2 linked regions of the Homo sapiens genome follow. The protein of the gene in region 1 interacts with the protein of each later gene in a biochemical or structural test. Each region holds a gene or a part of one and is shown in the gene's direction. Other genes may lie near its edges.

What was found. Proteins that work in one complex are often made in the same cells at the same time.
Region 2: the proteins of HERC4 (region 1) and UBE2L3 form a complex in vitro, tested with the Homo sapiens proteins (2 studies listed by BioGRID).

Annotation. Positions count from the first base shown.
Region 1 is NC_000010.11:68,072,484-68,076,660, reverse strand, and holds the start of HERC4 (probable E3 ubiquitin-protein ligase HERC4), read left to right. Parts: upstream 1-1,377; 5' UTR 1,378-1,517; exon of another isoform or gene 1,518-2,974; 5' UTR 2,975-3,004; exon of another isoform or gene 3,005-3,474; 5' UTR 3,475-3,552; coding exon 3,553-3,778; intron 3,779-4,177. UniProt on the Homo sapiens protein: Probable E3 ubiquitin-protein ligase involved in either protein trafficking or in the distribution of cellular structures. Required for spermatozoon maturation and fertility, and for the removal of the cytoplasmic droplet of the spermatozoon.
Region 2 is NC_000022.11:21,591,714-21,595,213, forward strand, and holds part of UBE2L3 (ubiquitin-conjugating enzyme E2 L3), read left to right. Parts: intron 1-1,147; coding exon 1,148-1,243; intron 1,244-3,500. UniProt on the Homo sapiens protein: Ubiquitin-conjugating enzyme E2 that specifically acts with HECT-type and RBR family E3 ubiquitin-protein ligases.

The DNA of each region.
Region 1 (4,177 bases):
GTTGGCAACCACCAGAAGCTAGCAGAGAAGCCTGGAAAAGATTATCTCTCAGAGACCCCAAGAGAGAACCAAGCTTACTTTCACCTTGATTTTGAACTGGTCTTCAGAACTGTGAGACAATAAATTTCTGTTGTTTTAAGCCACCGAATCTGTTTTAATTTATATGGCAAGCCTAGGACACGAATACACACACTTGAACATATTCTAGCACAGACAGTTCTTATCTAAAACATGTTTTTCAACAAGAGATAAAGAAACAGGCCAGGACCGGTGGCTCACGCCTGTAATTCCAGCACTTTGGGAGGCCGAGGCGGGTGGATCGCCTGAGGTAACGAGTTTGAGACCAGCCTGGCCAATATGGCGAAACCTTGTCTCTACTAAAAATGCAAAAATTAGCCGGGCATGGCGGCGCATGCCCGTTGTCCCAGCTACTCAGGAGGCTAAGGCGGAAGTTCCAGTGAACTGAGATCGCACCATTGCACTCCAGCCTTGGGGAACAGAGCGAGACTCTGTCTCAATAAATAAATAAATAAATAAATAAATAAAAATAAGAAAAGAAAAAGAAAGATGGCCTATTTGTGGAACTTCTTCTAGGTACTGAATATTCATTCTAGCAATACCCAACTTACAATTTCAAAAGTGCATTGTTTCAAGTTCTCCTGCTTTTTAAGAAGTTAAGGCTGGCCTAGGAGATCCAGACTTCGTTTTTATGAATCAGGGACTGCAGCCAATGTGTAATTTTCTCTGATAGAATGAGACCCTGCAATTCAAGCCTATCTTTCAGGGAGAGTGTAGAAAGTGATGGTAGCCAACACTGTACAAGGAAACTGAACTGGTGGTGGTGGTAGTAGAGTAGCTTCAGCCATTGCCATCAACACATCTCACATCCTCAGACTGGCTCCAGTTGAGGCCATGGGATAAAATAACTCTTCACCAGTCTTTATGTTCATAATTGTGATGTTTCATCTGCTACTTTAAAATCTCCTTGGGAAAAGAGAGAGTAAAATAATAAAAAGACTAGCTAGCATCCATGAGCACAAAGACAACCAAACCAAAAAACAAAGTGATTTTCTTCATTAAAAGGCTTTGTGCACGCCGAAGCATTCTCAAAAACAGTTGACATCTTCTTCGTTTGTCTTCGCAAACTCCAACTTTCTGTATTTGGCTTTTCCCTCTTAAAGCAACGCAAAGCGGCACACTGCGCAGGCGCCTGTGGCCAGCCACCCCCCCCCCCCCCCCCCCGGAAGATTCGGCGCAGGCGCCGGTGCCGGGGCCGGGAAGTGGGCGGGCTCGCGCGCGTGCTCTGCGGTTCACTTCCGGCCAGCCCCTCCCCCGCCTCCCTCGCGTGGCCACCTCCCCCTCTGCCTTCTCCTACCCAGTCTCTTCCCCAACTCTCCCCACCCCTGGTGCTCTCCGCCCCGCTTGCCTCCCGTTCTTCCCCGCCCGCTCCATCCGGGTCGCTGACGGCTGTCTCTGGACTGGACAGCAGTGGCGTCCGCTTTTCTCTAAGGAACCCGGTAAAGTTTCCCAGGGGCCGGGGAGGGGAGCAGCGGAGCAGCGGCACAGACGCCGGAGGTGCCCTGGTGATCGTCGCCACTGGCTGACAGAGGAGGGTCCCAGGAGCCGGAGACGTGCTTCAGCGACCGCGCTGCCTTGCTCTCTGGGCAGGGGCCGCCCCCCGTCACCTTGGGCTTCCCCTACCCTGAAGGGCTTGGGCGAGTTGTGGCCCCAGCGGGTTCGGGGGCGTGTGACGGCGTTAGGGAGGGGCAGGCCGGGCTGGGCGGATGCAGGCCGGCCCGGCATAGGGCGCTTTCTCCGCGCTTCCTGGGGGTGAGGGGCGTGGGGCGAGGGCAGGGCTGTGGCTCCCTGGCCCCGGGGCTGGAATGTCTCATCTGCCTGGGGATGGGCTTCTCTCAGGTTGAGGCCGCGCACTGCCAAGCCTCGGCCGCCGGCCTCTGAAGCTGTTGCGAGCGGCCGGTTGCGGTAGTCGTCTGCTTGGCTGCGAGGTTGGGTGTGTGCAGATGATTTCTCTTTCCCAGTCCCCATGAGCTGATCTGGGTGCACGTTCAGGGAAAGACGGGACTAAACTGCTTCTCATTTCCCTACCTGTTGCTGGCGAGAGGACGCCTCTGTGTTTTAAAGAAAAGGGTGGTTAAACCTCGCGCGCTGAAGTCGGGGTATTTTCCTGTATTACTCTTATTTTGTTTTTAAATATGGGAAGACAATGCAGAACTCTTGGGAATTATCGAGTTCTGATACCCCAAAAGAATGAAATCAAACTTCTGTTAATGGGATGATGGGTCGTGGAATGGGACACCTTGGGCACTTGCTAACAGGAACATAGGAAAATTGGAGTTGAAACTTCGCAGGCTCTGTAAGAATGTGGATGACTGCTACAGAATAAGGCTGACTTCCTGTAATTATGATATTTAGTAACGCGATGTGTTTAAAAGTCTACGTATGTATAGATGAAGTGGACTCTGTTATTTGTGTCTTTCTTTACAAGTGAGGAAATATTCAGTCAGTGTGCTGGAAAGTTCTACAGATTTCGCCATCAGACTATCCATTCCTATTCTTGAAAAATCTGCAGTGCTGGAGTTATTTGCAATTCCCCCCCGCCAATCTTTAAATAATTGTCTCAGAGATATAGATAGATATAGATTGCCCACGGGTGATTTTTTTAATCCCGGTTACCACTTGTAATAAAAGAGGTTGAATTTTGGAGAGAATTGATATTTAAATTGCATGTTTTTTTTTCTGTATTATAATTATGCACATTGATTTAGTTTTAAAATTAGTGAGGTTGGAATGTTAGTATTTTGATTTGAAATCTGGGATCTTTGGAGGTGATTTAAGATTATGGTTTGGTAAGAGAATCTTCATTTTCTCTCTGGGCTAAAGAGTAATTGGGAGAGTCGTTTAAATTGTGGAAAATTGCTTTAAATTTCCATTATTGGTTTTATTTCTGTTACAGATAAGAACTCCATTTTCTGTTGATGTGGAGGTAGGTATTAGAAAGCTTAATTATACTAGGATTGCAAGGTTATGTTTCTGCAGTTGGCTAAATTTTGCACTGTGTATATTTGCTTTTTGGGCAGAGGAAAGATGTCTTATTTCTTGTTCCCATTGAAATTATTTAAAGCAAAAAGTAGAAAAAATTGTGATTAATTTCATCAAGGTACTTATTCCTATTAGTTTAGTCTATCACAAGATAACCAGAAGTCAAAACTAGTTAATATGTTTTAAATTTTGCAAAGGATCATAGAAAGTGTCATATTTTCCCTAAAAATTTCTGTATGATACATTTTAAAAAATACAACTGATTGGTTTTTGAAACTGAATGATACTTATGTAGCATGTTATAAAGTATATTTAATGTTTACCATGTAGCAATTATTGTAGCCTAGCACTTGAAAGAGCAATTATACATCCTTTTTTCTTTGAAGTCATATTAACTTCTTTCTATTTCCTCAGACATAGGGTACCTCCAACTTTCCGGGGTTTCAGAAGAGAATTTTTTATTGAAACTGGAAGACCAAAATAATTACAAGCATGTTGTGCTGGGGAAATGCATCCTTTGGGCAGCTAGGTTTGGGTGGAATTGATGAAGAAATTGTACTAGAGCCCAGAAAAAGTGACTTCTTTATAAATAAAAGGGTCCGAGATGTAGGATGTGGACTCAGACATACTGTGTTTGTTCTGGATGATGGAACAGTGTACACATGTGGATGTAATGATCTAGGACAGCTAGGTCATGAAAAATCCAGAAAGAAACCAGGTAAGTTGAAATGTTTTTAAAATTTGCTATTTTTAATAATTATATCATTTTAAATTTGAATCATCGTATAATTTCTCTAGTTGTAACTATATGTTTATCAAGCTTTAAAAGCAAAGTAGAAGTTATGTATTTCCATTATATGTGTATATTTGTATGGTTCTAAGTACTTTATGTTGTGGTTTCTTTTTTTTTACTACTAGTATTATAAAACCTTATTTTGTATGACGATATAAAACAATAAAGAAAATCAGCCTGCAGTATATAAATCTTTGGTACAGAGTGTGTAGTGTGCAGGTCCTCTTTAATAAATTCTGTTCAGCCACCCTGGATAGATTTTAAATGCATAATTTACTCTGTGTTTACCTTACTTTGGGAGGGGGGAGGAAAACAAGACGGAAG
Region 2 (3,500 bases), on another chromosome or scaffold:
AAGTACCACGTAAGGAGGTTCTGGAGGGTGCTGGAGCTGGGCCAGAGGAAGCAGCCTGGCGAAGGAGGCAGGGCTCAGCTGGATGGTGCTCGGGCTGCAGAAGAGAAGGTGCCTGACAGGTGTGGAGGCGGCTTTTGTGCCACTGGATGGGAGGCCGGGCTGAGGCGGGTAGAGTGGCACTTCATGTGTCAGAGTGGAGGAATGTTGGCGAGGCTGGTGTTCTGGCAGGAGGGCATTGCTGGGTGGTTTGGGTTATAGCGCCTGCCAGGCATTCACTGAGATGTTGGAGGCAATGGGAAATGTCAGGCTGGTGCACAGTTGAAAAACAGGTGACAGACAGTTCTGAAGACATCTCAGGCAGGACCCTGAAGTCGTAAAGTTGTGCTTTCTGGGTGAAATGGCACTTGCTGCATTGACTGTTTATACAACAATAACCCCACATATTTGCAAGGGGTCCTGTTGCCCACAACATGGCTTCCCTTTCCTTTTCTGCACTCTGGGTCTGTTTTGCAGCTGAGGAAACAGGCTCAGTGAAGGTTTCCCGTCCCCACCCCCCCACTCCCACCCCAGTCCCAGACTGGATGGTTCTCTTTGCTGTGTGCCCATGTTGAGGTGGAGTCCTTCTGAAATCACACTTATAGCACTGGGTAGAAAACTGGATATGCGTTTGTGTCTGGTTTGTTCCCAGTCCCCAGTTTTATTCATCTTTAGCTTCTCAGCATCCGGTGCATAATCAGTGCTTAATGAATCTTGATTGGAAGGTATCAGGTGTAGAGCACCTCAGGATAGCTCCTGCCACATGTCTGCCCTATGCAGGGTGCTGAGGGATTTAAACAGCCATGGTGACCAACCCAAAGAGGAGGTGGTACGTCTGCAGAAGCATGGTTCCCCCTGTCCTATTCAGGGGGGTTCACTGAGGTGGGGGCTTGTCTTGGTCTGGGGCATGGGGAGAGGCAACAACCTTGCAGAGGGGACCGCCATGGCAGCTCCATGCCTCCTTAACCACTCCAAGCACAGTTTAGTCCTCACTGTCCAATTTTGTCATTAGCATTTTTGGCACTTGGTTTAATTTGAGGGCATCAGGAGGGATCTTAATATGTGGTGCTTTCCCCTATTTGACACCCCTTTATGCTTTGTCAATCAACAGGAGCTTGAAGAAATCCGCAAATGTGGGATGAAAAACTTCCGTAACATCCAGGTTGATGAAGCTAATTTATTGACTTGGCAAGGGCTTATTGTTCCTGTGAGTATTGAACACTTCCACTTCCTACCAGATTATTCTTTAAGGTGATGTGTGTGCTGTTGGGCTTGTTTTTCTGCTCCTTAGTAGGCTCTTAGTCTAGGCAGCCAGCAGATGCACAGAAGTGGCTGTCGCTCTAGGGTGATAAGGTAGGGAGTGTAGCCTTGGGTCCTGAGTAGAGTCACATCTTGGCACTCGTTTTGTCAAATTCAGGGAGTCCTGAGCTTTGCAGATCTGTAGACACAGAGAAAAGGAGTGTGTCTGTGCTCCTGCTCTTTCCTGACTTCCCTGCGCCTGGCCTGATGGATCAGCAGGACCTTCTTCTCTGAGCTCCTCAGGAGGGGACAAGCATTCCCCTCTAGATATTTTGCTTTCTCTCTTGGTTTTGCATTCATGTCTCTAACCCTTTGGATACCTGTATTTCGGGCTTTATTCCTGGTCCCCTCCAACCTGTGCCTTCCATTTGTCTCAAGTCCCTTTTCCTAATTGCCCACATGTTCCCCTCACCCCATGTCTTTTCTGGGGCTTATGCCTCCAGTGTCTGCCCCCACAGCCCAGCTCCCCCATCTCACAGTCTTCTGCCTTCTGATGGGCTCAAGGCCCTCCTAACGATGGCTTTCCTTAGCACCCTCTTAGTGCCTACTCTTTTCTGCATCCTTTGATCCCCTCCCCTTCAAGAGGCTTGTCTTATAATTAACTCCAGTTTGCAATCCCCCTTCCTCTCACTCTCCTGAAACCACGTCACACCCAGCCCACAGGCTGCCCCCACTGTTGTCACACCTCTAGCTCGGCAGTGCTGGCATCATGGCCCTTGCTTGCCTCCTGAGCTTTTGGAGCACGGGCAGCATTCCAGCCCCCAGTCCTGTGACCAGCCTGCCACTCGCTCCTGTTCTGCCACTCCTTCCTCCTCACTCTTAAACATGACTCTTGTTGGTCTCCTGCTGTTCTCCTGTTCTGTTTTGTCTCGGGACCCTACTACTTTCGGCATCATAGATGATTATGCCAGACATGAAGGATTCCCACACCTGTCTCCATTCCTGCCTTCTCCCCGGAAGCTGCACCATCTGTCCACCAGGCGGCCTCACTTGGTCATTGTGTAGCCTTCAGCTACCTCAGCTCACACCCTTGTCCTGCGTGAGTGCCCTCCTTTCCTGTTCTTCCTCATCCACTCACCTTCTCTGTTCCTTTTCATTCCCACTTTGCACATCTGAGCCTCTGGCCCTTGCCCTGTGCCTGCCGCTGTCCTGTATATAATTTGTTCTCATGGATGGATTGGCTGCTTTGCCAAAGCAGAGCATGGAGCATGCTTCCTCCTGTAGATGCTTCTTCCTGATGCTGGTTATAAGGTCATGAGCATGGAGCATGCTTCCTCCTGTAGATGCTTCCTCCTGTAGATGATTTCTCCCTGTAGATGCTTTCTTCCTGATGCTGGTTATAAGGTGAGCATGGAGCATGCTTCCTCCTGTAGATGCTTTCTTCTTGATGCTGGTTATAAGGTGAGCATGGAGCATGCTCCCTCCTGTAGATGCTTTCTTCTTGATGCTGGTTATAAGGTCATGCTTTTTTTTTTTTAAGTCCCTGAATTTGATCAGCAGTTATTGGATTTGTAGTTTATTTCCATAATCATTTGGATAACTAAGGAAAGATATGCTTTGTAATGATTTAGTATGCTCAGAATGTTTAAATCTGGGAGCTTCCAGTCTGATTTTGAAGATGAGTCCTTTAGATTTCTTTAGGCTTGATGGTGTTAGGGCTCAGGGCAAAGGGTGTGGGTGGCAGAGACACCTCTGCATGGGAGGGGTTGGCCTGTGAGTGCAGCCCTTGCCTACTCTAGGGACCTGAAGATGGCCGGGACCATCTGACCTCTTGTCCCTTTTCTAATTGAGATTGTGTAGTCTACTGAGCAAAGAAATGAACAGTTAATCTGTGGCTCTTTGGAAAATGATAAAAATGAATGGAATGGTTTTAAGTGGTAAGGCTTGGGCAGTCTGGCCCTGAGAATTTAGTGGCCTGAGAGCCTGCTAGCCAGCTCCACGGGTAGATTGCTGCTGGGCATGCTCTGCCCCAACTCATGCAAAGGCCTCCCTCTGGTTTCACGCTGGCAGGGGCTATGGAGCAGTGGGCTAAGATCTTACTAGGGCAAAGGTGGAGGCTGGCTGGTAGAATCCAAGTGTGCTTGGGCTGAGGCTCTGGGGAGCTATCCAGGCCAAAGTTTCACCTTGGAGACGGTAAGCAACAGCCAGGGCTGCTCTTGTCCCTG